Linked DNA regions of Homo sapiens. The protein of the gene in region 4 purifies or fractionates together with the protein of the main gene of each other region. This does not show direct contact. Each region holds a gene or a part of one and is shown on either strand. Other genes may lie near its edges. The genes, in order: RNF7, PDPR, USP22, RAB40C, DTX3L, TRIM56 and UBR5.

Region 1 (4,057 bases), on a different chromosome or scaffold from region 4:
AAAGGGGAATAGGTTTGCTAGTACAGCCAGTTATAATAGCCAGAGTAACCCTTCATGACTGTATCACCTTGGATATTTCACATAACTTTTTGGAGCCTTATTTTCCTAATTTGTAAAGAGGCAGTTGGGATCACCAACCTTAATATTAAAATTCTGTGATTGCACAGAACTAGCGCCAGATTCAGGTAGGATGTCTTCACTGTTATATCACAACCCTCATGATATTTAGGTGTTTGTCTACGTCCCCATTTGCTCCTGAGCCCCTTGAGACCCAGCCTTGGTCATTTTGGTGTCCCCAGTGCATAACTCCTTGCACAGAGGAGATAGTAATTGTGGGATTGAAGAAAACCTCAGGAGGCAGTGGTTGTTTTTAATCCACACTGAAGAGACTAGGGCAGTGGTGTTTTTTTAAGGGTAAGAGCATGTGGAAAGGAGCAAACAAATGCCTGAGCAGAATCCAGTGTAAGAAGAGAAGCAGGCTTCAACTTAACCGTGTTTCTATTTTTACAGAATTATTTTTCTCCTATTTATGTTAAAAACTATTTTCTGTTGGTTCAAACTTCCTTTTACCCAACTCTGACTCCTCTTCCAGCTAGTGAATGAGTCCATTTTTGCTCCCTAAAATATTCTATATTACTTTTTTCATTAAGCTGATAGTATTCCAGATTGAATTTTGAAAACTTCTAGTACAGCCTTTAGGATCTCATTTTTAGTATTTACACCTACTCCACTATATTAGAAGTTACTATAAGCTCACTGGGCATGCTCATGGGCAGTTTATTTTCAAGGCACCCTTTTAAATAACCCATACATATAATGTTAGTATTTGTTTATATATACATCAAGAAATTCTAGAAGGATACCCAAGAAACCAGTAATAAAGTAATTTATTAAAAGACTTTACCATTGTTGGGTAAATACTTTGGGCTCAGACTTATCTGTATTTTCTTTCTTTCTTTTTTTTTTTAAAAAAACTTTTAGGTTCAGGGCTACAAGTACAGGGTTGTTACATAGATAAACTTGTGTCACAAGGGTTTGTTGCACAGATTATTTCATCACCCAGGTATTGAGCCTAGTACCCATTAGTTATTTTTCCTGATCCTCTCCACCTTCCACCCTCCAAAAGGCCCCAGTGTGTGTTGTTCCCTGCTATGTGGCCATGTGTTCTCATCATTTAGCTCTCAAGCATTTTCTTTTTTTTTTTTTTTTTTTTTGAGACGGAGTCTCGCTCTTTCGCCCAGGCTGGAGTGCAGTGGCGCTATCTCGGCTCACTGCAAGCTCTGCCTCCTGGGTTCACGCCATTCTCCTGCCTCAGCCTCCCGAGTAGCTGGGACTACAGGCGCCCACCACCACGCCCGGCTAATTTTTTGTATTTTTAGTAGAGACGGGGTTTCACCATGTTAGCCAGGATGGTCTCCATCTCCTGACCTCGTGATCCGCCCGCCTCAGCCTCCCAAAGTGCTGGGATTACAGGCGAGCATTTTCTTACAAAGAAAAAACCTTAGTGTTTAGGGATATCTAGTATTTACTTATTTTATCTGTAAAATTCTCACCAGTTTGTATCATCCCCACTTAATATATAAATACCTCACAGTATTGTCCCTTTTTTACAGATGAGGGAATTGGAGTTCGTAATTGGTCCGAGGCCCTGAACCTAATAAATGCCAGTGAAATGGGATTTGACTGTAGATCTGGCTCCACAGCCCTCGCTGTCCCCTCTGTCTCACTGGCTTCTCACCAGCCTTGTCTGGATGACCATCGGTAGCAACCTATTGGAAGCATACAAAGCAGTTTATTTTAGAGGAACTCTCAAGTGTCTTAGGGTAGAAAGTAAAAAGTTGCTTCTTATGAGTTGCTAAAGGAAGGCTTCTGTGTCAGTAAGTATGGATGACTTTAAAAAACTTGTTTATGAAGCAATTTTTTAATTTAATTTTTTATAAGTTATATATTCATATAGTTCAGAAATTGAGGAAGTTATGTATATTACCTGGAAGAGTGAAAACTCTCCTTCCCATTCCAAACCCTCCCAGTAAACTTTATTATTGGTTCCTTGGGTATCCTAGTGTTTCTTGATGTATGTATAAACAAATGCTAACATATATATATGGTTTATTTAAAGGGTGTCTTGAAAATAAACTGTCCATGAGCATGCCCAGTAAGCGTATGGTAACTTTGAATATAGTGGAGTATGGCATATTTTTCTCTAGTAGTTTTCTCTCTTGGCACCGTCAGGACATCTTTTCATCAGAGCTTATAAAAATAGAGGATTTGTTAACCCTTGTGAAATTGCTCCTGGTTATAATTAGTAGAATGCCTTGTACTTTATTCCTCTTTAAGTAGTTATGTTCAGATGAGAAATTAATAGTATGAGTCTTTATTGCCATCCCTAACCCTTAGGGCTTTTGACTTTGAAGTGTCTGGTTTTTAAAAATTGCATTCTGAGCATCAGAATGAGAATCGCTATTTGTTTACTTTTAGATGCCTGTCTTAGATGTCAAGCTGAAAACAAACAAGAGGACTGTGTTGGTATGTTGTAATTTTGTTCTCTTGCTTTTTCAACTGAAGGTTTTCTCTCAGTAGGGATGTTTGAATTTGAAATTAAGATTGACTTTATCAATACACAAAAATAAACTGTAAAGCAGTGATCCATTGTTAATATAAAATATGTTGGTTCTCAAAAGAGTTTAATGGAATGAACCTGCAAGTCCTTTTATTGCCATAATTAAGAAGAATTGGTTATATATTCCAGACATGGTCATAATAAACATTTTGGTAATCAAAAATTAAATATTTTCTATTAAGAAAATTATAAAATCAGAAATTTGTCAAAACATTATTTGAATTTTGGCTATGTTATAGGTCACTTTTGGTTCTAATAAGGCATTTCACTTTTCAATACTCTTATAATACAGTATTTAACTTTAAAACCAGAGTAGAAAAATTCTAAGTCTCAAGTATATTTTTGGAATGTGGTTTGTGTATCAAATTTTCTTTAGAGTCTTAGACTACAAAAGTTGTCGTAGGCTAAATATTTTAGGCAGTTCAAAGATTTTTATGCCCTAGTTCTTGAGGTGATCAAGTCTAGATTGCTATATAAACATGTTTATAGATTTTCTTAGAATAAAAGATTGGCTTTGTATTTTGTGTTTGCATGGTGTACGTAGAACACAAATACATGGTGTACATAGAACTTCTTAATATTGATTCTTGCAGTTTTGATCCAGTTCTTCCTCCTGAAACGCTTAGAATGTTTCACCCTTGCTTCCTACCCCCTGTAGCCAATTTTCATAGGCATTTTTTTCTTTTTTTCTGCCTTATTTCTTTCATTTAATCTTTTTCTCTGCCTTATTTCTTTCATTTAATCTTTTTCTCTTGTCATATAGCTCAGTTGATCAAGCAAGGGACAGATGAATCCCAAATTCGAGATTGCATTCTAGATTGTGGATGATTTCCCTTGTTTTAAAGTTTTTCTTTCATGCTGCTTGTTTAAAAAGTATTAATTTGGGAATTGTGAGGGGCAGGCCACTTTCTTTGATCACAGAGAGACCTCTCTCTCCAGCCAGCCACTTTGAAAATTTCATCGTCACATGAGGAATTGCACTGCTTATGGGTGACTTAACACAATTCATCACTTCTAGAAAACAGCTCAGCTCAGATGCACAACTGAATGTTTAGAAGCATGTTATTTATAATAGCCTACTGCATACTAAAAACATTTACAACTCATTCTGTCTTGGTAAATAAAAATTGGAAGGACATTTTCCCATAAAATAAAGCCCAGAAGATCTCTAAGGTCAGTGCATGACTGAGAAGGTCAGATCTAAGGAAGGTTCAAGAACATTCATCTAACTTCAAGAAGACAGCATGTGGAGCTGTGTAGGAACTAGGGGTCATCACATCACCCATAGATTCTAGAACAGTGATGGAAAGGCTCTCAAACAGTGACTTATGTCTCTGTGTAACTTACACATTTAAGTTTCTGTTTCTTTATAGATAGAAAAACATTATTTTGGCCAATTAACTATCTTTTTTCAAGATTATTATTTGTAATATAAAA
Region 2 (4,176 bases), about 70 Mb from region 4:
GACCTCTCAGTGCTGGGTTTACAGACGTGAGCCACCACACCCGGCCTAAGAGAAATGAATTCTGACCCTAGCTTTGTTGTGTGAATAATGTCATTGGTACAATACAATATAACTTCTCAGATTTCAGAGCCACCTAATCAAGCTGCAATATGTACCCTTTCACTTCAGAAGTGAGTTAATTATCAGGGAGGAAATGTCTGTAACAGGTCTGAGATCCTAACACAGGCACAATGAAGAATCGAATGCCATTTTTTCACATTTTGTTACCACCTGTGTCCCACTTAGTAACCTTCTTCTCTGCTATGAAGCTTGGTAAGGTTTAGGACCCTGACCTTTCTGCCATCATTTCTACCTACTAATGTGGAATGCTGAATGTGAATACAGGCCGAGTCATGCCGTGACACGTAGCTCCAGGGAGGGACGATAGCAGCTTGGCAGGATTGTCTTTTCCTTCTGGAGCATGCCTGATACACTGGGTAATTTTGAAAATTAGACTACATTAGCCTGGAAATTGGGCCGGGCAGAGTGGCTCACGCCTGTAATCCCAGCACTTCGGGAGGCTGGGGCGGGCAGATCACCTGAGGTCAGGAGTTTGAGACCAGCCTGACCAACATGGAGAAACCCTGTCTCTACTAAAAATACAAAAATTAGTGTGGCACGGTGACACGTGCCTGTAATCCCAGCTACTCGGGAGGCTGAGGCAGGAGAATCGCTTAAACCCAGGAGGCAGAGGTTGCAGTAAGCCGAGATTGTGCCACTGCACTCCAGCCTGGACAACAAGAGCAAAACTCCGTCTTAAAAAAAAAAAAAAACTACGTTAGCCTGGAAAGCTCTTTTGAATAGAAACAACTCCAGAGTCTAGTGGACATGGGCTACTCAGGTCTAGAATCTGTGTCTTGGGCTTTGATAGACTACTCGTGTCTTTTCTAGCTTTGATGTATGATCTGAAGGTTCCCCGCTGGGACTTCCAGACCGGTAGGCAGTTACGCACCTCTCCTCTCTACGACCGGCTGGATGCACAGGGAGCCAGGTGGATGGAGAAACATGGATTTGAGAGGCCAAAGTACTTTGTTCCCCCCGACAAGGGTAAGAAGTCACATTCTCATTTTTGCTTCTTTTTTTTTTTTTTGTCCTGGGAATTAATAAAACATATTTTCAAATGCATAGGCTAGAATGTGTTCACAGAAGAAAAAGAACCACGTGGACTACACTAAACTCTACAGGGCCTTGTGATTTTTCCATTCCGTAGACCTCCTGGCATTGGAGCAGAGCAAGACTTTCTATAAGCCAGATTGGTTTGACATCGTGGAGTCTGAAGTCAAGTGCTGTAAGGAAGCTGTGTGTGTCATTGACATGTCCTCTTTCACAAAGTTTGAGATAACAGTAAGTATTTGGGAACCAAAAAGTAATAGATTAGGAAACTTTACATATTTATTGAATGCCTTTTGTTTTTCATCTTCAAAACTGATTCCTGACTGGGTGCAGTGGGTCATGCCTGTATTCCCAGCACTTTGGGAGGCCAAGGGGGCGTGGATCACCTGAGGTCAGAGTTCCAGACCAGCCTGGCCAAGATGGTGAAACCCCGTTTCTACTAAAAATACAAAAATTAAGGCCAGGAGTGGTGGCTCATGCCTGTAATCCCAGCAGTTTGGGAGGCCGAGACGGGTGGATCACCTGAGATCAGGAGTTCAAGACCAGCCTGGCCAACATGGCGAAACCGTCTCTACCAAAAATACAAAAAATTAACCAGGCATGGTGGCGGGCACTTGTAATCCCAGCTACTCGGGAGGCAGGAGAATCGCGTGAACTCATGAGGTGGAGGTTGCAGTGAGCTGAGATTGCGCCACTGCACTCAGCCTGGGCAACAGAGTGAGACTCCATCTCAAAAAAAAAAACAAAAAACAAAAACAAAACACTGATTTCTTAAGAATTCTGGTATATTTTAGTGTTTCATCTGTATTGTAACATTTTTCTGAAATTTTAGCTCCTTGTTTCAGGTTTTTAATTTGCTAGAGAGGCCTGTTTATCATAAGAATCAATAGCTAGCGTTCCCTGGAGCTTCTTGCAGTGGAGTAGGTCTGCAAATGTTGTCACATGGGAATTGGCTGATTGAATTTTCTCAATGAGGTTCATTGCTGGTGGGGCCATGTGGCCCAGCCAGGTGCTCTCACGCTCACTCTCTCTGTTTCATTCCCTAACCCTGCAGTCCACTGGGGATCAGGCATTAGAAGTTCTACAGTACCTCTTCTCCAATGACCTGGATGTGCCTGTGGGCCACATTGTGCATACTGGCATGCTCAACGAGGGTGGAGGGTATGAAAATGACTGCAGCATAGCACGACTGAACAAGCGCAGGTGAGATGAGCTGCCGTCCCGCTCTGCTCCCTCCAACATGTTGATTCCTTAGGGGTGCTGTAGCAGAGGCTCTCAGGCGCTTCTCCGGGAACCATAAATCCCAGAGTCTAAGAATCATTACATGAAATCAAAGCCAGTTTATTAGCAGTCCTAAACAAAAGAAATCACCAGGAGGAAAAGAAAAAAAAGCCCACCAGATTATGTACCCTACTGGGAGAAGATGCCTTGTCTTTTTTCTTTTTTTTTTTTTTGAGACAGGGTCTCACTTTGTTACCCAGGCTGGAGTGCAGTGATGCGATCATGGATCCCTGCAGCCTGGACCTCCTGGGCTCAAGTGATCCTCCCACCTCAGCTTTCCAGGTAGCTGGGACCACAGGTACACGCCACCACACCCAGCCAGTTTTTGTATATTTTGTAGAGATAGGGTTTTGCCACATTGCCCAGGCTGATCTTGAACACCTGAGCTCAAGCAATCTGCCCACCTTGGCCTCCAAAGTGCTGGGATTACAGGTGTGAGCCACTGTGCCCAGCCGATGTCTTAACGTTAGTAAATCTGTATAATTTCTTGGCATTAACAGGAAGCCAGAATTTTGTTTTGTTGTTAGGTGGTGTATCCTAGAATGGTGCTACTGGCCTTCTGTGAAAGCTAAGAAATCATTTCCTAGTATTTGCCTCATTGCTTTGAAACCAAATAAGATTTGATTGCTTCCTGATCCTTTTGCTGCTACCTGGTTTTGATTATTTTGGGGTCTCACTTTTCAGTTTCTTCATGATCTCTCCAACCGACCAGCAGGTCCACTGTTGGGCCTGGCTTAAGAAACACATGCCGAAAGACAGCAACCTGCTCCTGGAGGACGTCACCTGGAAGTACACAGGTACGGGGGTTCGGGCTCTGCCACGTCGAAAAGGCCAGCAGATGCAGATGTGTCCACGTTTGCCTTCTTTACATTTGACTCTCAAAAATGAACATTAGAGTTAGCATAAAAGAGGCTCTCTGGTCATAGAAAATTGATCTCTAGGGGATGCGGTGGCTGACACCTGTAATCCCAGCACTTTTGGAGGCCGAGGTTGGAGGATCACTAGGTCAGGAGTTCGAGACCAACCTGGACTATATGGTGAAACCCCGTCTCTACTAGAAATACAAAAATTAGCTGGGCGTGGTGGCACACACCTGTAATCCCAGCTACTTGGGAGGCTGAGGCAGGAGAATCACTTGAACCCAGGAGGCAGAGGTTGCAGTGAGCCCCAGATTGCACCACTGCACTCCAGCCTAGGCGAGTGAGACTCCATCTCAAAAAAAAAAAGAAAATTGAGGGCTGGACACAGTGGCTTACACCTGTAATCCCAGCACTTTGGGAGGCTGAGGCGGGCGGATCATGAGGTCAGGAATTTGAGACCAGCCTGGCCAACATGGTGAAACCCCATCTCTACTAAAAATACAAAAATTAGCTGGACATGGTGGTGCATGCCTGTAGTCCCAGCTACTCATGAGGCTGAAGCAGGAGAATCGCTTGAATCTGGGAGGCAGAGGTTGCAGTGAGCCAAGATCATGCCATTGCACCTCCACCTCCCGGGTTCAAGCGATTCTTCTGCCTCAGCCTCCCAAGTAGCTGGGATTATAGGCGCCCGCCACCACGCCGGGCTAATTTCTGTATTTTTAGTAGAGATGGGGTTTCACCATGTTGGCCAGGCTGGTCTTGAACTCTTGACCTCGTGATCCACCTGCTTCGGCCTCCCAAAGTGCTGGGATTACAGGCATGAGCCACCACGCCCAGTCCCAGAGAGTACCTAATTTTTAAGGATGACTTGGTTCCCTGATTT
Region 3 (4,176 bases), on a different chromosome or scaffold from region 4:
TCCCAAGGTGGCCCTGGGGAGGGGTGTGTGTGAACTCGGAAGGCGAGGGGCGCTCCTCAAGCAAGGACTTCCCAGTCTGGAGACCATCACAGTCACTGAGGGACTTGGGAGGAGGATAAACTCATGGGCCCTGTCAGAGGCTCTGAATCCACAGGTCTATCTCAGCTGCATCTAGAACTTGGGGCCTGTGACCCTAGGCAACACTGGAGACCCCTGCACATTTCACAGAGCGTGCCCAGGCCAGGCCCGGTGGCCTGCACTGGACAGTCAATGCTGCATTTCACAAGGCCAGTTCCTTGCTAGAAATTTATTTAACAATATAAAAAATGAAAACTTGCAGACTGGGAAATTTACTCTCGATATTTATACAGGATTTAAATCTTGAGACAATCTCCTACTAATGGAATTCAGTAGTTAAGGGACAGCGAGGAGGTCCAAATTGCTCAGAGCAAACTCGGTTTCTAATACTCAGAGACAAGGCCCCAAACGGTCTATGCTCCTTATAGAAAATGGCCCCCGTGACACAGGCAGCACTGGCCTTTCCCGATATTTGCTCGTCTTATGCAGTTTAGAAGTGACAGTCCATTTCGGGTTCTGAAATAATTTCGGTGGATCATGTCCAGGGTTTTTAAACTTCAACTGAAGTAAAGAACAGAGCCAGGCACGGTGGCCCATGCCTGTAGTCCCAGCTACTTGGGAGGCTAAGGAGGGAGGATCGCTTGAGCCCATGGGTTCAAGGCCAGCCTGGGCAACATACACAAGACCCCATGCCTGAAAAAAACAAAAACAAAAACAAAAAACCTGTAGCATGCACTGAGGTTGGGTGAGAGGGTCCCCTGACCTAACAAAGCAATGGATTCTCCCTGCACTCAACACTTGAGGCTCTAAGCAGAGACCACATCTGAGAAGAATTAGGGCCACTACATCAGAAAATGGAACCAGAAACCATAAAATAATGAAAACTAACACACTTCGAAGCACGTAGAAAAACAATCCACCATGCATGATCCACGCCTTCTTGAAGAGGGCTCTTTCACTTGGTCCCTGGTCAAGGACTGTAAGATGCAAAATGGTAGGGGAAGCTTCCAAGAACACACTGCTGGCTGTAGACAACAGCCAAGACCTCAACACGAAGGGCTCGCATCCCGAGGGGACACCTGCCCTACGACCTCCCCAAGAGGAAGCACCCCCACCCCACAACCTTCGCTCTCATGGCGTCTATTAATCATTTATCTCATAGCCTCCTTAAAGACCTCTCAGAGCACACACAGCTCTGGAGACTGGGAGGATGTCAGTACGGCCCCAGAGGGTTTGATATTGCCGAGCACGCAGCCTCTCACTTACTGGCAGACTTGGCAGGTGACGTCTGACTGCAACCCGCCTGTGAAGATCTGGTCTATGATGCAGTTGCAGTGGTTGGGGTTGTTGGCCTTCTTCCCATTGTCATCACCTGGAGACAGACCACGGCTCTGGGATTAGTGTCTCCCCAAATATGGGGAGTCTCTAAGGGAAGAGCAGTTCACCCTGCAGAAGCCTGGGGGAGCCAGGGCCAACGCTTTAAAAGGCCATGTGAGGACACTCCTCATTTTAGCAGAGGGTGTCCTTGTTATTTTAATATGACGAGAAATCACAGCACTTGGATTTTCAATGCTCCTTTTTCTCATTCCCTAACAAGAGCCCCACAGCTTCAGTCTTGCCAAGAAAACCCACCTAATGCCCAGTGACTGAGCAGAATAATCGATTCCCATTATCATATAAAGAATGACTGAATCAATATTGTTCCAGTGAGACAGCTGAACATATGGTGGGCCAGGTACACCCGGGGAAGCCCCAGCAACCTCCCTCCCTGAGTAGGTATCATGGTGCCCCAAGTTCAGAAAGTGACACCGCAGGACACAGGCTGTCCTCATCAGCTAGAGCCCCCAGGGGACAGCGTGTCTTCCAGTCAGTTGCATCTGGAAGTGCCACTCCCACCCTCTCTATTCAATACACACTTCATTCATATCCATGTGTGCAGATCTGTGAAAAAGAAACTTAAGTAGCAGAACTTAATTCGTGTGTGGAATACATATTCTACATAACTTCACTAGACAGTGGGGACAGGGCACGAGGACACCTGTATATACATCACAGTTCAAAGACGTTGAATCATGACAGAGGAATAGAGAAGGGCCACTAAGTCTTCTGAGAGCAGAAGGTTTAAGATTAGAGAGAAAAATGCTTCCCAGAGGGATCTCAAATTCATGGGACAAAATTCAGAGGACAAGAATATCCATACAGGAAGGCGCAAAGAATGATGAACAGAATGGCCAGGCGCGGTGGCTCACGCCTGTAATCCCAGCACTTTGGGAGGCCAAGGCGGGCGGATCACGAGGTTAGGAGACCGAGACCATCCTGGCTAACACGGTGAAACCCCGTCTCTACTAAAAATACAAAAAATTAGCTGGGCATGGTGGCGGGCGCCTGTAGTCCCAGCTACTCAGGAGGCTGAGGCAGAAGAATCACTTGAACCTGGGAGGCGGAGGTTGCAGTGAGCTGAGATCGCACCACTGCACTCCAGCCTGGCGACAGAGCGAGACTCTGACTCAAAAACAAAACAAAACAAAACAAAAGATGAACAGAAAGATGCCGTGAAGGCCACAAGGACAAAATGCACGTAACCAAGGCCATGTGGCCAGGCCACCTCGCTGAACAGCTCTGGCAACCAGGTTTCTAAACAGAAGAACCTTACATTTCTTTTCAGACATTTCCAAGGGAATTCTGTCAGAAGCACGTCAGAGGTCACATTTTGTCATGTGAACATTTAACAGCAATGCATTTTTGAACAAGTGATTTTTAGAACATCTTTCTGCTGCTTACAGAAGGCTCTTCGTTATTCTCACTAGGTGCTTGGGGTAACAGCATAGTCACTTCCACAGTGGCTCTTTCCTCTCTTATAAATCATACTAGGACATGAAATTCTACCTAAGCTACTAAGTAACTTTCCTTTGATTTCTAGGTAAGAATTAAAAGGATCACGTAGTTTTTCAGAGGAAAAAAAGTAAGTACCAAAAGAAAACAGAACCCAAAGTCACATTTGACCAAAACCAGCCATTTTAGCTCAACTGTGGGTTGTTTCTGGGCTGTGATCTCAGAACCCATAGGTTGTACGTAAGCGCCTAGGGCCCGGGTGCACAGCCTTGAGACGGATGAGAAGCGATGGGAAGGCCAGCCCACCAAGCTGTTCAACTCGGTGAACCGTCAGAACAGGACTCTGTTCTCTAAAAGACTCCAAGTTAAAATTAACTGATAGGATATCGGCTACAACTAGCTGTGCCAGCCCAGAGACCACAGGAAACTCACAAGCAGCCAGGTGCCCTGTGACCTGAGCGCATGGGTTCTCAGAGTATGGCATCTGAACCAGCGGCATCAACATCAGCTGGGAACTGATTAAGAGTGAAGAAGCCCCTGCCCCCCACAGATCTGCTGAATCAGAAACGCCAGCACGGGCTTTAGGAAGACCTGCAAGTGACCAGCCCACACTCATCTGAGAATCACCTCTCAGTCTCTCTGCCTGTATGGATAGACTTCAGCTGCAGGTCCCTCACACTGGGATCTCCACCATGAGGAGTGGGGAGGAGCCGATCTTGGCTCAAGTCATTCATTCCCAGCCTCCCACCTCCAGCGCTAAGAGCTGCCCCTGCCAACTACCAACACCACACAACTCTGAAAAATCATCAGGGTACCACCCTGGGGCCAGGCTGTGGGACTATGTTGGGGGAGATGGCCCAGGTCCAATGAGACCCCAAGAGAAGCTTTGCTCGTCCTGTGTCCCAGCTCTCTGGCTATTTCAGAGCAACCATCAGTCCTTTTGGAGAGTCCCCAATGGGAAGGAGACAGTTGGGTGATTAAGTTGTGTTTGGGGGATGTCCAGAAGCCTCAGGCCTGATAACCCACAGGGTCCCAGAAATGCCAGGGCAGGCAGGGGCCTCAAAGCACAGGCCCAAGAGGGCTCCAAGAGTTTGCTGTTCACTGTGATCGGTCACTGAGGACCTGTCATACTGCTGGAACTACTTCCTCGCCTCTTAAAAATAAACTAGGAGGAGCCTCTCTGAGGTCATTAGTTATGGTGACTTCAGAAACAAATGACGACAAGGGCTATGATGACAAAACAATGGAATGTGTCACCTGTGCCCC
Region 4 (4,176 bases):
TTTTCCCCAGAGGATAGTTTGTCTTTAGTCCTTAAGGACTCAGCTCCTTATGTGGGTCTTAGTGGGAGTCGTGGGCAACACCCAGGTCTAGACCCAGGTGGAATGCATGGTCTTGGGGCCTTGGTGGGGGTCGTGGGCAGCACCCAGGTCTAGACTTGGGTGACGTGCATAGCCCTGGACTTGAGGAGCAGGATTCCTGACTGGCTTGCTGTGAAGGGCACCACTGGGGCAGTGACGCAGCTTCACACGCAGCTCGGGAAGCACACAGTCGGCGCAGATGCTTCCAAAATGTCTGCAAGGCTGCGGCCTCTACTGCATCCAGATGGTGAACTGCCTAACTCTACCGCGTCCCGATGGTGAACTGCTAACTCTGCCGTATCCCGATGGTGAACTGCCGAACTCTACCGCATCCCGATGGTGAACTGCCAAACTCTACCGCATCCCGATGGTGAACTGCTAACTACCGCATCCCGATGGTGAACTGCCGAACTCTACCGCATCCCTATGGTGAACTGCTAACTCTGCCGCATCCCGATGGTGAACTGCCTAACTCTACCTCGTCCCGATGGTGAACTGCCTAACTCTACCACATCCCGATGGTGAACTGCTAACTCTGCCACATCCCGATGGTGAACTGCTAACTCTGCCGCATCCCGATGGTGAACTGCCAAACTTTACCTCGTCCCGATGGTGAACTGCCTAAACCTCGTCCCGATGGTGAACTGCCTAACTCTACCGCATCCCGATGGTGAACTGCCTAACTCTACCACATCCCGATGGTGAACTGCTAACTCTGCCGCATCCCGATGGTGAACTGCCAAACTTTACCTCGTCCCGATGGTGAACTGCCTAAACCTCGTCCCGATGGTGAACTGCCTAACTCTACCGCATCCCGATGGTGAACTGCCTAACTCTACCACATCCCGATGGTGAACTGCTAACTCTGCCGTATCCCGATGGTGAACTGCCAAACTTTACCTCGTCCCGATGGTGAACTGCCTAACTCTACCTCGTCCCAATGGTGAACTGCCTAACTCTACCACATCCTGATGGTGAACTGCTAACTCTGCCGCATCCCGACGGTGAACTGCCAAACTCTACCTCGTCCCGACGGTGAACTGCCAAACTCTACCTCGTCCCAGTGGTGAACTGCTAACTCAGCCGCATCCCGATGGTGAACTGCCAAACTTTACCTCGTCCCGATAGTGAACTGCCTAACTCTACCGCATCCTGATGAACTGCTTAATGGCGTTGTCCCTGGGTACACATTGGGTGCAGCTCCTGCAGTCATGGGCTGCTCACAGCCGTGGCCCTTTTGGCACAACCATTGTTCCTTCTTGTCTTGGAAACGAGGACCCGAGGGAGACCATCCGTCCATCCTAAAATTGGGACGTTTGGTTTTCTGTTGTTGAGTTGGAGTTATTTGTAGAGTCTAGAGATCAGTCTCTAGGAGACGTGTGATCTGCAGACATTTCCCTCCATCTCTGGGTTGCATTTTTCTGTCCATTGATGGTGTCCTTCGATGCATGAGAACAGCCTTTGATGTACATGTAGGGGTTGGTCAGGCAGAAGGACGGTGTGGGTGGAAGCGCTGATGCCTGAAGAAGGGCACCGTAGGCAGAGAGACCGCATGGCTGGCTTGCAGGGCTGGGCCCGCACGGAGAGACAGATGTGCACAGACACACACACAAGCCCACTGGGCAGGTGCACTCCGTGGGAGGGCGTCGCTTATGTTTAAAAAGTGCCCGTTTCCAAGCCCCTTGGAGAAAGTGTCATAAAAAGACAAAACGTGAATGGTGTTTCTAAGGTGGGGGAAGGGGCTGAGCCCTAAAGGTAGAAGCTTCTGGAAAGTTTCCAGAGGGCCCAGAGCCTGTTTAAGATGTCGTGCCTGCGTTAAGTGTCCAGAACTGTCTGCTCCTTTCAGTTTCTCTTGGACTGACCTTTTCCTATAAAACTGTAAGGAAATAAAAAGTAATGATGTGATGTGGGCCGGGCACGGTGGCTCACACCTGTAATCCCAGCACTTTGGGAGGCCAAGGCGGGCGAATCACCTGAGGTCAGGAATTTGTGACCAGCTTAGCCAACGTGGCAAAACCCCGTCTCTACTAAAATTATAAAAATTAGCCGGCTGTGGTGGTGGGCACCTGTAATCCCAGCTACTTGGGAGGCTGAGGCAGGAGAATCGCTTGAACCCGGGAGGTGGAGGTTGTAGTGACCCGAGATTGTGGCACTGCACTGCAGCCTGGGCGACAGAGTGAGACTCCATCTCAAAAAAGAAAAAAAGGCCGGGTGCAGTGGCTCACGCCTGTAATCCTAGCACTTTGGGAGGCTGAGGCGGGTGGATCATGAGGTCAGGAGATCGAGACCATCCTGGCTAACACGGTGAAACCCCACCTCTACTAAAAATACAAAAAATTATCCGGGCATGGTGGCGGGCGCCTGTAGTTCAGCTACTCAGCAGGCTGAGGCTAGATAATGGCGTGAACCCGGGAGACGGAGCTTGCAGTGAGCAGAGATCGCACCACTGCACTCCAGCCTGGGTGACTGAGCAAGACTCTGTCTCAAAAAAAAAAAAAAATACCAATGTGGCAGGCAGGCTGGTGGCTGTCTGAGGTCAGTCCAGAGTCCGGAGAAGCAGCATTTTATTTATTTATTTATTTATTTATTTATTTATTGAGTACTGTCACCCAGGCAGGAGTGCAGTGACATGATCTCGGCTCACTGCAACCTCCACCTCCCAGCTTCAAGTGATTCTCCTGCCTCAGCCTCCCGAGTAGCTGGGATTAAAGGTGCCCACCACCACACCTGGCTAATTTTTTGTATTTTTAGTAGAGACGGGGTTTCACTGTGTTGGTCAGGCTGCTCTCAAACTCCCGACCTCATGATCCGCCCGCCTCGGCCTCCCAAAGTGCTGGGATTACAGGCGTGAGCCACCGCGCCCGGCCAGAAGCAGCATTTTTAAACTTGTTTGGCCCTCCCTAACACCAACCTTGGCAGTTCCTGGGCTGCAGTAAGCCGAGACTTGGAAATACATTCGCCTTGGAGAATTCAACTTCAAAATGCATACGAAGTAGGTCAGGGTGGAAATAAAGGCACTGCCCTTTCTCCAGGCACGCTGGAGTCCACGCCCTGCCTTTGCCCAATGCCCTCTGAGGGAGAGGCCCTGTGCCTTGCACCCAGCGCGGGCCACAGGCGGAGGCCCCATTCCAGGCAAGCCGTGCCCATGGAGAGGCTGGCCTGCTAGGCTGTGGGGCCCGATGGCCTGACACTGTATGGACCACGCTCCTGCCCTGCCCTGCCCCGCCCTGCCCGTGGCCCGTGTGCAGAAGTGGGCAGGCCTGGGTTGCTGGGCCAGAGCCCCGAGATTTCCCCCTGCCCCACTGGCTGAGTGTGGGGGAGCTGCTTCTCCACTTCCGCGTGGGTCTTGGCCCTGGGAGGCCAGTGGCCGAGGCTGGTCTCGCGGGCGCTCGCTCCAGGAGTGGCGCGTCCCCTCAGCGCCCTGTGCTTCCTCGCAGGGATCGACTACAAGACCACCACCATCCTGCTGGACGGCCGGCGCGTGAAGCTGGAGCTCTGGTGAGTTGGGGCTGCGGCACTTCAGTTCCTGGGTGAGGACACAAATGCCGAAGGGAGAACAGAACCCTTAGAGAAACAGGAAGGCGTCCTGTTTGCATTTCACTTGGAAGAGCCACTTACACAGCCCCTGTTTAAACATAGAATGGATTTTACTCCAACAGGAAAAAGACAGTCTGGGACACTGTGTCCCTAGAGATCGCGGCTCCCCTCCTGCCCCGGAAAACCTGATTCCGTGGTGGCTGTGAGCCCCTTCCCTCCCCTTCTGTCGGCTTCACCTTAAAAAGCATTTCCCAGCGGGGTGTGGTGGCTCACGCCTGTCATCCCAGCACTTTGGGAGGCCGAGGCAGGAGGATCACCTGAGGTCAGGAGTCCAAGACAAGCCTGGCCAACATGGTGAAACGCCATCTCTACTAAAAATACAAAAATTAGCCAGGTGTGGTGGCGGGCGCCTGTAGTCCCAGCCACTCAGGAGGCTGAGGCAGTAGAATCACTTGAACCCGGGAGGCAGAAGTTGCAGTGAGCTGAGATTGCACCACTGCACTCCAGCCTGGGTGACAGAATGAGACTCCGTCTCAAAAAAGAAAAAAAAAAAAGCATTTC
Region 5 (4,176 bases), on a different chromosome or scaffold from region 4:
ATAAAGAACAATTGGATTTCGTATAATACAGTTTCTACCAATAGTCTCCTCACAACTTAGACTTTTTCTAGAATATTATTGGCCAAGTGATTTCAGGTTCTCTGTGGACTGGTGGGGGAAGGGGTGAAAAAGAAAGGTGACCTTAAAAGGAAGCAAAGTGACATTCCGAGCATCTAGCCTTCAGATAGACACAACGCCTCAAATTAAATCAGCTTATATAGTATTCATCTCGGATTCAAAAGCCCCCTGTCCTTTGGTGCAAAATTTAAATAACTCCATAGTACTTTATAGCTGGCAGGGTAGAAGTTGATGGGGACCAATCTTTCTGTCTTTGAGATTACCATCCCCGATCAGCAGCTCTCAAAACACCAATTCCACTGCTATAGAGTCTACTTATATCCACATCCAGAAATTGCCGTATTTCATAATCCCTATACTCTGTTGAGCAGCCATTACATCCCAAAAGGATCTCACATTTCTGGTCCTCCAAACCGGGATGTTTTGTGGTGAATATCATTCCAAGTGATGACATCTGAGACTCCTAATACGCGAGAGTACCCCACTGTAAAAATCAGCTTTTGGTCAAAGGCCCTATAAAGCAGTTTCAAAACCTTCCTTCCTTCCTTATTATCAGGCAAGTATGCAGTTCGCTGTATTCCAGGGTATCTCTTTCCTGGGTTTGGGTGTTCTTCCTGTGTGAGAACAAGAAAATGTCATGTGAAAAGAGTGCCCTGTCTAATTTTTACTATAGGTATAGATGTGTTCATTTGTAGATAAAGCAAATCAAAAGCAAGAAAGGTATTGAAGTTATGCTCATATTCCCAATAACTCATATTTCTCCTCTTTCCTTGAATTCATGCTGGAAACACTGTCCACCTTCCTGATACCCCCATCTCAAGATATAATCTCCACCCACCCTTTCTCTGTCTTAAGAAATAGACACAAAAGGTATTTGAATTACCAGCAAACATTGTGACCTTTACCACTATTTCAGTCCCTTGCACATGACCCTGGAGATAATTCCTTGGGAAATCTATTGTCTAATAGGCAACAGGACAGTCTCTTTTGCCCTGGTAATCGTAGCATAGTGGCAAGAAACCCATGGACTTGAGAAATACTTACTGTTTGTATGCCTGCTTTCATAGAATAAGTAATCACAATGGTGCCAAAGGACTCATAACCTGGAAGTGAGTCTCTTGAAACAGTGAAAACCATGCTTCCCTCTGGCTGATTTCCTTTCTGAATACCATAGGAAGTCTGGCATGTGGGACAGATTGGCTTATATGACATGGCTTTGTTGATACAAGGGGCGCAGAATTCATGCTTGCACTTTGGTAGCACTTTTTTGTTACTAATGGTGTCCATACAGATGACACAGATGCCCTTTTCCTTCTTGTCCAGTTCTGAGGCCTCAGAACTCACAGAGCCCTTGAGTGGCGGAGAAGCTGCTTTGGAATCATCGCTATCAATGTCCATCGGTGTTTCATGACCCTCTTTCAATTTCTTTCCAGCCAATGAAGACATTCCTCCTCCTTTTAGAACATACTGCTTCGCCTTTGCAAGGTGATTTGGCAAACCAGTCAAAGTCATTGACTCTTGATTTAGCACAAAGTGTACATTTGGATGTCTTTTTCTAAAGTCATCAGCAAACTTGGTCTGATGTAAGTGCTTTCTCTCCTTGCCCAAAGACTTCAGTAAAAGAACTTCTCTCATCAACTGACATGAGGCATGTTGAAAGGCATCGATGAAACTTGCATAAGCATGCACAGATAGATCTACCTGCCTGTCCTTGGATTCAAACAGAATGCAGGTTTTCTGACCTTTCTCAGAAACCTTGCTGCAAATGTCATACCTTTTTTCGATCTCTGATATCTCCTGTAGTAATTCAGTTTCTAAAAGTTTATAGTGGGCACTATCAACCTCAATTACATTCATCATGTAATTGGCAGCAAATAGTTTCACAGGTATCTTGACAAAAGCTTCAGAGATTTTTTGTTTGGCAGCTGAAATGTCATCTTGGGTCCCAAGGAGAGTTAATTCGCCTCCTTTCTCCTTTATAAGGAGCTTTGTAAACTGGTGATTCAATTCCTGTTTGAATTTATTTGCCTGCTTACTGTCTGCTAAAGAGACACATTCTTGCTTCAGAGGTTCTGTGTTCTTCTGAAATTCACTAGCAAAAGACTCACGAGCTGCTTCCAGGTCACCTGATCGACTTGAGGTGAAATCTAAACAGACCATATTTGGAGAACTCTCCTGGATTTCAATGTTTACACCAAATCTTTTCTCTATTGAGTTGATTTTATCAGGACAGATATATTTAAAGTATTCAAAGTAAGGCAAGGGAACTTCAAAATAGTTGCTTTTTTGTTCTGCCTTGGTTTCTGGTTCAGAAGGAGAAATGCAGCTGTCCCTCTCCTGCTGACTGAGTGGCTTCCTCTCTGTCATTGAAGGGGAAAATTGTTGTTTCTGCTCACTTTCCAGGAACTGCTCACTCAAAAATTGATGTATTCTTTCAATGTCTTGGAAGTCACCACACACCTTCTCAATTCCATCGTGACCTTCCATTTTTCTGATACTAGGGCACAGTGTGGTTATGTATGCCCTCTGCTCTTTGGAGAACAGGTTACAGTTCAGGTCAGCTGTTACAGTAAGAAAGATCTGAAATTTTAAAAGGAACAGGAACAAATAAAACCTCTCAGCATGCAGGCCTACCATCTTCTCTTCAGGAGAATGCATAGAGACTAGAGAAACAACCACTACATCTTTCCCAAGTGGGGGCAACTTCTTTCAAATCCTATTTATTTATTTATTTATTTATTTATTTATTTATTTATTTCAAGATGGAGTTTCACTCTTGTTACCCAGGCTGGAGTGCAATGGCGCGATCTCAGCTCACTGCAACCTCCGCCTCCCGGGTTCAAGCAATTCTCCTGCCTCAGCCTCCTGAGTAGCTGGGATTATAGGCATGTGCCACCACGCCCGGCTAATTTTGTATCTTTAGTAGAGACGAGGTTTCTCCATGTTGGTCAGGCTAGCCTGGAACTCCTGACCTCAGGTGATCCACCCACCTCAGCCTCCCAAAGTGCTGGGATTACAGACATGTGCCACCGTGCCTGGTCTCAAATCCTTTTTAGAGGATACAGCACGCTACATCCCAGAGGTTCTCAGCCCTGTCTGCATATAAGACTCACCTGGCGAATTCAGGGAAAAACAAACCAGCCAAAGCCCAAGCACATCCCCAGAGATTCTGATGTTAACTAATCTGCAGTGGAGCCTGGGCATGAGCATTTCTAAAAGCTCCATGGCCAAGAGATCCGTGTTCTACAACTGCCACTAGCTGTTTGATCTTGGGAACAGCAGTCAAGGGAAGGCACCTGTGCTCTCTGGGCAAGTTGTTGTGGCCCTCACAAAAGTTTGTGAACTTGGAAGGGAGCCATAAAACTGAGGGCAATGGCTTTTCCTATTACTATTTTTTCTCTTCTTCACTCTTCCTCCTTTATTCTTGTTTCAACTAAACACTCGACTGCATGCAAAGTTGTGGACCCTTCTAAACCCTGGCCTTTAGAAGCTCAAATATAAGACACGCCAGGTTAAGATAAAAAGGACAGAGACCAATTGACTGTAATATAAAAGCAAAATTCCTAATGTTTTGTTCCTTCTCAAGGACTTTGCATGTTAAGATCCTTCCTCTAGATCTTCAAAATGTTTCCTGAATCCAGCCATTTCTCACACCTCCATCAAGGCCACCAAAGTGCATGCCATTATCATCTTTCACCTGGCGCACTGCAACCCCTCCTAACCAGGCTCTAACTCTCCATTCTATCCCCTTTCTACGTTCAGTTTTCCAACAGCAGCCAGAGTGACCCTTTAGAAATATAAACCAGATCGCCCTCTCCCCTGGCTCAAAACTATCTGATGAATCCCCTAACATTTTAAGTTAAAAATCCAAAATCCTTACCTTCAGCCCCAAAGGCCTGTCTTCTGGGTACCTTCCCGAGTTCCTAGCACCTCTCTCCATTGCTCACTGCCCTCCCCACCACACTGGCTTCCTTAAAGCTTCTGGGCCTCAAAATGTCAGCTCTTGGGGACTTTGCACCTATGCTTCCCTCTAGGACACTTTCCGCCCAGAAATCCACTTGGCTAGAGATGTCACCTCACTTGAGGTTTTTCCAGACA
Region 6 (3,663 bases), on a different chromosome or scaffold from region 4:
TCAAAAAAAAAAAAAAAAAATGAGACTGAGCCAGGTGCAGTGGTCACTCCTGTTATCTCAGCACTTTGCGTGGCCAAGGCGGGAGGATGTCTTGAGGCCAGGAGTTCAAGACTAGGCTGGGCAACATAGCAAGACCCCATCTCTACAAAAAAATTTTTAAATTAGCCAGAGGTGGTGGCATGCACCCGTAGTCCCAGCTGCTCGGGAGGCTGAGGCAGAAGATTGCTCGAGCCCAGGAGTTCAAGGCTGCAGTGAGCTCTGATTGTGCCACTGCACTCCAGCCTGAGTGACAGAGCAAAACCTGGTTTCCTAAGGGGGGGATAAAAGAGGGAGAGATGAGATCGGGGTGTCCCGCTTCTGTGCATGTGGAGGGGGTAACTGGGAACCGTGTACTGTAGGGGATCGCACACCTTGGGGTGGAAACAGCAGCTCTCCGGAGTTGCATGGGAGCCATGGGCAGTGGTCCTGGCTGGTGAAATGATTCTAGCCACGTGGCCCACCCAGGGGGCAAAACAATAGAAACCTTCAGAAATGAAACGTCACCTGGCTGCAAGAAGATAGTCCCACAGGCGCCCTAGAGATGGGGATGCCAAGTGGCTTCTCGGGAAGCTGTAAGAATCCACAGGGCATTGTAAGATGGAGGGAAATATTAAGTTTTCTTCGTAAAGAGGTGAGGGGGGCGAGAGCAGCAAAGGACACTGGAAAATGAGAAGCATGGATGGGAAGTGTTGCATTGAGCATAATTTGGAGGTAAAATCTCCAACACCGTAACTGAGTGGCCTGGGGACCTGATAGAAAGCCCTGCTCAGGACTAAGGCAGAGTTCCCAGTTATATCGCAGATACAAAGAGACCAGGAACACGCTTGTAATCACAGCACTTAGGGAGGCTGAGGCGGGTGGATGACCTGAGGTCAGGAGTTCGAGACCAGCCTAGCCAACATGGTGAAACCCCCATCTCTACTAAAAATACAAAAATTAGCCAGGCGTGGTGGCACATGCCTGTAATCCCAGCTACTCAGGAGGCTGAGGTGGGAGAATCGCTTGAGCCCGGGAGGCAGGGGTTGCAGCGAGCTGAGATCGTACCACTGCACTCCAGCCTGGGCAACAGAGTGAGACCCTGTCTCAAAAAGAAAAAAAAAAAAGAGAGAAATCAGGAACATCATGAAAGATACAGCAAAATGTTTTACCCCAGCCCACTGCACCACACCTGGGATTGTGACAATTAACTTGATAAATTGTTCCTTTTCCTGTTCGGAACTGACTAGGTTGTGCGTGGATGGACCAGTGAAAAGAAAATCCTGTTTGGGTAGGGAAGAGGGAAGTAGAAAACCTCTTTCGTATTCTTGGTGTCAAGAAATGGGAAGAGAATGAGGGAGCAGAGACCTGGGTTGAGTGTTGGCTCTGCACTAAACAGCTGTGTGATCTTGGTCTAGTGCCTTAACCTCTCTGAGCCTCAGTTTGTACATCAGTAACATTGGGATAATGACATCCACATGCCCACTTCACAGAGCTGCTGTGAGGACTGGATGAGAAATGTAGAGAAGTATTTCGGACACCATAAAGCTCAAATACAAGGTGTTGGTTAGGAAAAGTTTCAACTGACTTGTACCCACCTGATACCCCTCCATCAGCATAAGCGTGTATGAGGATGTTAGGTACATGTGTTGTGAGTGAAAGCTCTGGAACACCCGAGTAGAGCTTTCTGCAAATCAGCTTCTCCTTCAGAGGAGACCATTTTGTTTTGCTTTCCAGCAGTTACTTGAAGAAGCCTTATCTGAAGTCACAACAGTGACTTCAGGAATAGAAGGGACCAATGGCCAGCTTGCTGAAATGTAATGCCATTCTTAAAAGCCAGCTAAGAATCAGACCGTATTAGTTAAGGACCCATAAGAGTAGACATTTAGAAAAAGTGAAAAATGGCAAGAGTGGCCCAATCTTTTGAGAGTTTAGAGAAAATATCATTTGGAAAGGGAGTAGCTCTCCTTCTATTTTAGCCTTATTATTACGGTATCTATAAAGCAATGCCATATTCTAAATCTGCAGAAATAAAATTCTAAGGGGCGAAAGTCCAAGGCAGAAGTCAAAAGTTTTGCAAGGAAACCGATGAGGTTGCTGACCTGAGCTGGGCAGGGTTGAACAGGCGAGTGCCAAGATCAAGGTCTCTGATTGTCTCTCCTTGAAAGGTAAGCAGAGAACTAGGGCTATCCCATAAATTAAGTGGGAGATTGGAAAGGGGTGCGGACTTCTGTATTGGGGAGAAGGTCTTGGATGAACTGGGGCAGAGAACTGCCAGAGAGAGTACCTAGGAATACGTTGTTAGCAGGAGAAAGACCAAGTTCAGATGCAGACTTGGGAAAGTAGGTAACTTGACCAAAGGTAGCAAAATTAGACTACCCAACTGGATTGTGAATGCAGTTTATGAAATGGATCAGGACAGGAGCAAAAATAGATTTTCTAGAAACTGCAGACTCCTGTGATTGGAGCAGTATACAAAGTACAGCAACATCAGACTAGATCTCACCTGAGGTGCTGGGTGAGAAATCTTAGGGACCAGATGGAAGAGGGCCTGTGTATAAAGACATTAGGAAGGAGGTTTGGGAGGGCAGCCTGACTTGTCTCCAGAGAAAGTTAGAACTGGTTGACTTAGCAACCAAGGGACACTGGGTCAAAGACGAGGAATCAGGACGTCGGTGCCTAGTGACTGAGCGCCAGCCCAGCCCATTTCTCTACATTGCCATGGGCTAAACCCAGTGTGCTGTAAACTCTTCAGTTCCTTTGGTTATGGATTTTGTATCTTTTCTGTGTTTCTTAATAAAGTTCTTTTGAAAAATGGGAACCTTTCTCAGATGGGAATTTTGTATCTTTCCTCTGTTTCTTAATAAAGTTCTTTTGAAAAATTGGAACCTTTTCTCAGAAGGGTTTATGGATACGGGGAACCTTTTTTTTTTTTTTTGAGACGGAGTTTCGCTCTTGTCGTCCAGGCTGGAGTGCAGTGGCACGATCTTGGCTCACTACAACCTCCACCTCCCAGGTTCAAGCAATTCTCCTGCCTCAGCCTCTTGAGTAGCTGGGATTATAGGCACAAGCCAACACGCCTGGCTAATTTTTGTACTTTTGGTAGAGACGGGGTTTCACCATGTTGACCAGGCTGGTCTAGAACTCCTGACCTCAAGTGATCCACCCGCCTCAGCCTCCCAAAGTGCTGGGATTACAGGCGTGAGCCACTGCACCCGGCTGGATACAGGGAACCTTTAACAACCAGGCCCAGATAGTGAAGGAAATCAGGTCATCAAAGCCACCCAATGGTAGGTAGCTCCCAGGGTGGCCACACAGATTCCTTGGGGACATTGCAGAAGCATGCACCTTCTGGGTGGGAACCAGTAGGTGATCTGGCCCATGCTGGCGCATGCAGGGCTCCACCTGGGCACACGCAGGTGTGATATGCAGGAAGTACATGAGGGACCCAGGTCATGGTGGCTGTGCCCACCACGTGGGGCTTTGTTTTGGGGTTTGTGGAAGCCAAACAAGCACCTGTGGGTACCTTCCCTTTTCTATTTTTTCTATTTATTTTTTTGAGACGGAGTCTCTCTCTGTCATCCAGGCTGGAGTGCAGTGGCGTAATCTCGGTTCACTGCAACCTCCACCTCCCGGGTTCAAGTGATT
Region 7 (4,176 bases), on a different chromosome or scaffold from region 4:
AAAAGTGGGAAAGGCTAAGAGAAAATCTGTAGAGATGAAAAAGGGTATTTCCAACCACTAAAGAGATTTCAATATTAAAACATAAAAGCACTGTGTGAAGCCACAACTAATGAGTATTTCTTTTTTAAAACAAACATCCTAGAACAAACATCCACAAGAACTATAGGCCCCTCAAAGTGGTTACTTTAAGAAGTTATGCAGTTAGTATGTATAATACTGCCAAAACAGACTAGGTATAGTGGCTAATGCCTGTAATCCCAATGTTTTGGGAGGCTGAGGTGGGAGGATTGCTTGAGGACAGGAATTTAAGACCGACCTGGGCAACACAGCGAGACCCAAACGCTACAAAAAATTTAAAAAGAGTAATTTAAAAATACCAATACATAAAACGTATTACAGTTGAACATCCCTTACCTGAAATGCTTGGGACCAGAAGTGTTTTGATCTTGGGTTTTTTTTTTTTTTTTTAAATTTTGGAGTATCTGCATTATATATATTTATCAGTTGAGCATCCTCAATCCCAAAATCCAAAATGCTCCAATGAGCATTTCCTCTGAGCATCATGTTGGTGCTCAGAAAGTTTCCGGTTTTGCAGCATTTCAGATTTCTCATTTTCAGATTAGGAATACTCAACCTGTGTAACTCCCCAGTTAGTGTGACTTCAACTTTTTTCCCAACAGACTTGCTGGCACAATGAAGCACAACAGTCCTGAAGCCTAGTCTAAAAAGCCCCGTTAATACACTACTAAGTTTTGGGGACTTCTAGTTCCAGCAATTTGGCAGACTGTGCAGAGAAACCACTCTTGTTAAGGAACACATATATATGCTAGATATTAAAAAAAAAAAAAAAAAAAAGGACAGCTGTGCAGGTGATAAAGAGAAACGACTGTACTGTATAAAGCTTGGAGAGACAAGTGCCACCATTTATCCCAAAGGGACCCACTGATGTCTCTTGGGCTAGAAGGGCTTCAAGGAACCACAGATTTCACATGAGAGTCTGGAGGCTAAGCAAAGAATAGAAAGTCATCACAGGAATCTCCTCTTCTGTCCCCCTCACATATATAAAGCTAAACATAAATCTTAAAAGGGCAACACCATGAAGGAGTGAAACAGAAAAATCATACCTCGAGAGATTTACCTATCTCAGCCATGAATAGATGCAGAATGGAAAAAGGTCTCTTTTGAGAACTTCTAACTACAAGTCTGCATTTTGGAGAGTTTTGGACTGCACTCTACACTATAAAGCCTGGTTCAGTGTTGGTTAACTGTGTGGTGGCTCAACACTATGAGCAAGCACCAAGTAGTCTTCCTCTCTACTCTGCCATCTACTATTCAGGAGAATACAAAAAAAAAAGGAAGTATCTGTCAAGGTAAGTCCAGCGTCTAAACTTTAATTAGCTGTGTTACACTGGAGAAGTTGCCTAACTTTTCTGAGCCGTAGTTTCCCCATTTGACAAACTAGAATGATAGTGGTTATCTATGACATATTGGGAAAATTAAAACAGGTAATCTGTCTACAATACTTAGGAAAGTTCCTAGTACATACTAAAATTTCAGTAACTGTTAGTTACTGTTATATGAGAGACATGGAAATAAAGTAGAAACAGATTATTTATTAAGAACATAACAAGAACATTTTCAAGAGGTGGAAAGAAGCAACAGAAAAAGCTACTCTTAAGACTTCACACTCAATGGGGTGATATACACCTTCTATAATCCAAGACAAGTGAAATCCCAGAGAATGGTCAAGGTCTGTGTTTTTCAACTTAAGACATCCTTGGAACACTAGTCAAAATACACCCTTTATGGGTAAGAATGTACTGTACTATAATAAAGAACTTTTAACAGTTGAAGAAAACATTAGCACTATTTCTTGATTATCACATGAGATCTCCTTCTGGGAAGATTTAGGAAGTTGTCTCAAGAAACAAGCAAAGGGAATGGAATAAAGAGAGTTTAAGAGTATGTAATACTTTAATAATGAGACTAAGAACAAGATGACACAAAATCTTGAAACTTAGTAGGAACAGTTTCAAGGGCAGTGTTTAGAGATGAGACGATCCCAAAATCTGTTCAACAGCCATCAATTTTTTATGTTCCAGAACAAGATCAAGGGAAGTATACTAAGAATTCACAAAGTAATACCACTTAAGTAACTAATGAGTTCCTCACAGGGTATCAAGATCAGGAAAATCATACAGAGTCCAAGCAGATCTCACAAGCAGAATTATTTAATCATGGGATAGATTTGACAAGTCTGAAGATACACAGCTTGATTTGTAACAGTTTTCAACAAGTCCTGGATGTATATCAGTATCAAGGATACTATGGGAGAGCTCTGTCAGACAAAACTGGATTTAGATTAAAGGGACACCTGACATTAAAGGAAAAATTGGGACACATATACTGGCATATAGGAGAATAGTGAGAGCAGATACTCAACACCAACCCAGATCAAATCCAAGCGTAACAACTTGGGAACTATCCCAAACACTAAAGCAGGCCATCCTTATTAACAGAGATGTTTTCCAGAAAAGGAGGAAAAGGGTCTTTAGATCCTAAAGGTCCTTATTAAAACATCATCACACATGCACATGGTTATAAAATCAGACTTGAAAAAACAAAATACACTAAATATTTGCCAAAGATCTACAGCATTATTACTGAAAAGTCTGACCCCTAAACCAGCAGAATTGGCATCACCTGAGAACTTGAAAGGCATACGAAGTTGGAGGCCCCACCTCAAGACCTCTAGAGTGGGCATCTATATTTTAATAAGAGCCCCAAGTCATTTTCATACATATTAAAGTTTGAGAAGCAGTGTGCTAAAGGACATCGGAAAGTTTTAAGTTGCTCAACATCCTGATTCAACAAGCTTACAGTGTAATTAGGGAAACTATCAAACAAATAGAAAAGATAAATGAAACTTAAGAACAAATAATCTTATAATTAGAAACATTTATAATGGAGTTATTTTAGCCCTGTCCTTGATAATACAGTTGTTGTAGAAAAATATTTAAAATTCCGGCTTTCTGGTTGTTATTTATGTTACACAAATGATCATGTACACCACCTGAGTGCTTATGCAAAGGTTTTAGGAAGTCAAACACGACATTTCCAGAGAAGGATTAATCAGAATCTGTTACCTGGTAGCAATTTACCTGCTAGACTGATCAGATGATGGTCGTGGTGGTAGTGGTTCCACTGAAAATAATTCTTCACTGCCCTGCATGGCATCTATGCTAGTACTAGCCAGGGTAAATGGTGCAGTTGGACGAGCAATCCCCATTCTGACAGGAACAATCAGTGACTCTGCTACGTTGCACAATTCTTCCACAGCGTAAGGTAGCAATGCTTGGAATACACGCTTGCATTTTCCAATTGGCTGTGGAATAAAGTTGCTAGAACAAAAAGAGAAATATCAGCAATCTATCTTTTCATATACATAAATCACTATCACAAAAACAGAGTGAAAATGGTATCTAAACCAAAATCAAAAAGGATGCCTTACTTTTTCTTTTTGGATGAAGCCATTTCCACACTCAGAATAACAAAAACTCTTGCCACTGAACGTAGAAACCTCATTGTCACAGCAATAGCTTCTTCTCTACGTCCAGGTGTATATTTGTTTTGGAGTTCTTTCACTAGTGTACCTAGTAGAGTATCTAAAAGCTTTAAAAAATTATATTCACTCTATTAATGTTAAGATACTTCATAAGATGTTTAGACATTCATAAAGTTATAAGTTCTAACATTTTTTAAGTATTAACATTTTATAATAAAATCTCAAAACAAATTTAACCAAAACATTTACAAGGTCAGTTTATGAAATATACCTGCCAATGTGCTTGACATACAGTGAGTCCTAAATGTACGATTTCTTATTTTTTGTCCCACAGTCCTTGGTATATCAACTAATATTTAGAAGAACAATACCAAATATATGAAATCAGAAGAAGAAAACATAAACTCAGTCTGGGGCACTTTCCAAAACAGCAAAGCAGACTCAAATATTTATATGAATAAATTCATAATCCCATCTCCCTCATGGAACCATTATTACTTTCTAGTCTCTTTTCTGTGTGCAGCTTCTTGTATAAATGTTAGCTACAGAGAACACCCAATTTTCACAGTTTGGTTGTTTGGTTTTTTTTTTTACGTTATTTACAATACGAT

What was found.
Region 1: the proteins of RAB40C (region 4) and RNF7 purify together in Homo sapiens (co-immunoprecipitation; 4 studies listed by BioGRID and IntAct, with this or other methods). This does not show direct contact.
Region 2: the proteins of RAB40C (region 4) and PDPR purify together in Homo sapiens (affinity purification with mass spectrometry; one large-scale study listed by BioGRID and IntAct). This does not show direct contact.
Region 3: the proteins of RAB40C (region 4) and USP22 purify together in Homo sapiens (affinity purification with mass spectrometry; one large-scale study listed by BioGRID and IntAct). This does not show direct contact.
Region 5: the proteins of RAB40C (region 4) and DTX3L purify together in Homo sapiens (affinity purification with mass spectrometry, with the first as the bait; one large-scale study listed by BioGRID). This does not show direct contact.
Region 6: the proteins of RAB40C (region 4) and TRIM56 purify together in Homo sapiens (affinity purification with mass spectrometry, with the first as the bait; one large-scale study listed by BioGRID). This does not show direct contact.
Region 7: the proteins of RAB40C (region 4) and UBR5 purify together in Homo sapiens (affinity purification with mass spectrometry, with the first as the bait; one large-scale study listed by BioGRID). This does not show direct contact.

The regions. Positions count from the first base shown.
Region 1 is NC_000003.12:141,741,031-141,745,087, forward strand, and holds part of RNF7 (RING-box protein 2), read left to right. Parts: intron 1-1,613; exon of another isoform or gene 1,614-1,877; intron 1,878-2,478; coding exon 2,479-2,526; exon of another isoform or gene 2,527-2,527; intron 2,528-4,057. UniProt on the Homo sapiens protein: Catalytic component of multiple cullin-5-RING E3 ubiquitin-protein ligase complexes (ECS complexes), which mediate the ubiquitination and subsequent proteasomal degradation of target proteins.
Region 2 is NC_000016.10:70,141,304-70,145,479, forward strand, and holds part of PDPR (pyruvate dehydrogenase phosphatase regulatory subunit, mitochondrial isoform 1 precursor), read left to right. Parts: intron 1-930; coding exon 931-1,086; intron 1,087-1,167; coding exon of another isoform or gene 1,168-1,172; exon of another isoform or gene 1,173-1,249; coding exon 1,250-1,383; intron 1,384-2,206; coding exon 2,207-2,355; intron 2,356-3,117; coding exon 3,118-3,230; intron 3,231-4,176. UniProt on the Homo sapiens protein: Decreases the sensitivity of PDP1 to magnesium ions, and this inhibition is reversed by the polyamine spermine.
Region 3 is NC_000017.11:21,011,486-21,015,661, forward strand, and holds part of USP22 (ubiquitin carboxyl-terminal hydrolase 22), read right to left. Parts: intron 1,451-4,176; coding exon 1,345-1,450; intron 1-1,344. UniProt on the Homo sapiens protein: Deubiquitinase that plays a role in several cellular processes including transcriptional regulation, cell cycle progression or innate immunity.
Region 4 is NC_000016.10:613,693-617,868, forward strand, and holds part of RAB40C (ras-related protein Rab-40C), read left to right. Parts: exon of another isoform or gene 1-2,572; intron 2,573-3,515; coding exon 3,516-3,576; intron 3,577-4,176. UniProt on the Homo sapiens protein: RAB40C small GTPase acts as substrate-recognition component of the ECS(RAB40C) E3 ubiquitin ligase complex which mediates the ubiquitination and subsequent proteasomal degradation of target proteins.
Region 5 is NC_000003.12:122,566,971-122,571,146, reverse strand, and holds part of DTX3L (E3 ubiquitin-protein ligase DTX3L), read right to left. Parts: intron 2,659-4,176; coding exon 1,123-2,658; intron 693-1,122; coding exon 475-692; intron 1-474.
Region 6 is NC_000007.14:101,095,065-101,098,727, forward strand, and holds the end of TRIM56 (E3 ubiquitin-protein ligase TRIM56), read left to right. Parts: 3' UTR 1-2,903; downstream 2,904-3,663.
Region 7 is NC_000008.11:102,290,444-102,294,619, forward strand, and holds part of UBR5 (E3 ubiquitin-protein ligase UBR5), read right to left. Parts: intron 3,673-4,176; coding exon 3,512-3,672; intron 3,402-3,511; coding exon 3,162-3,401; intron 1-3,161. UniProt on the Homo sapiens protein: E3 ubiquitin-protein ligase involved in different protein quality control pathways in the cytoplasm and nucleus. Mainly acts as a ubiquitin chain elongator that extends pre-ubiquitinated substrates.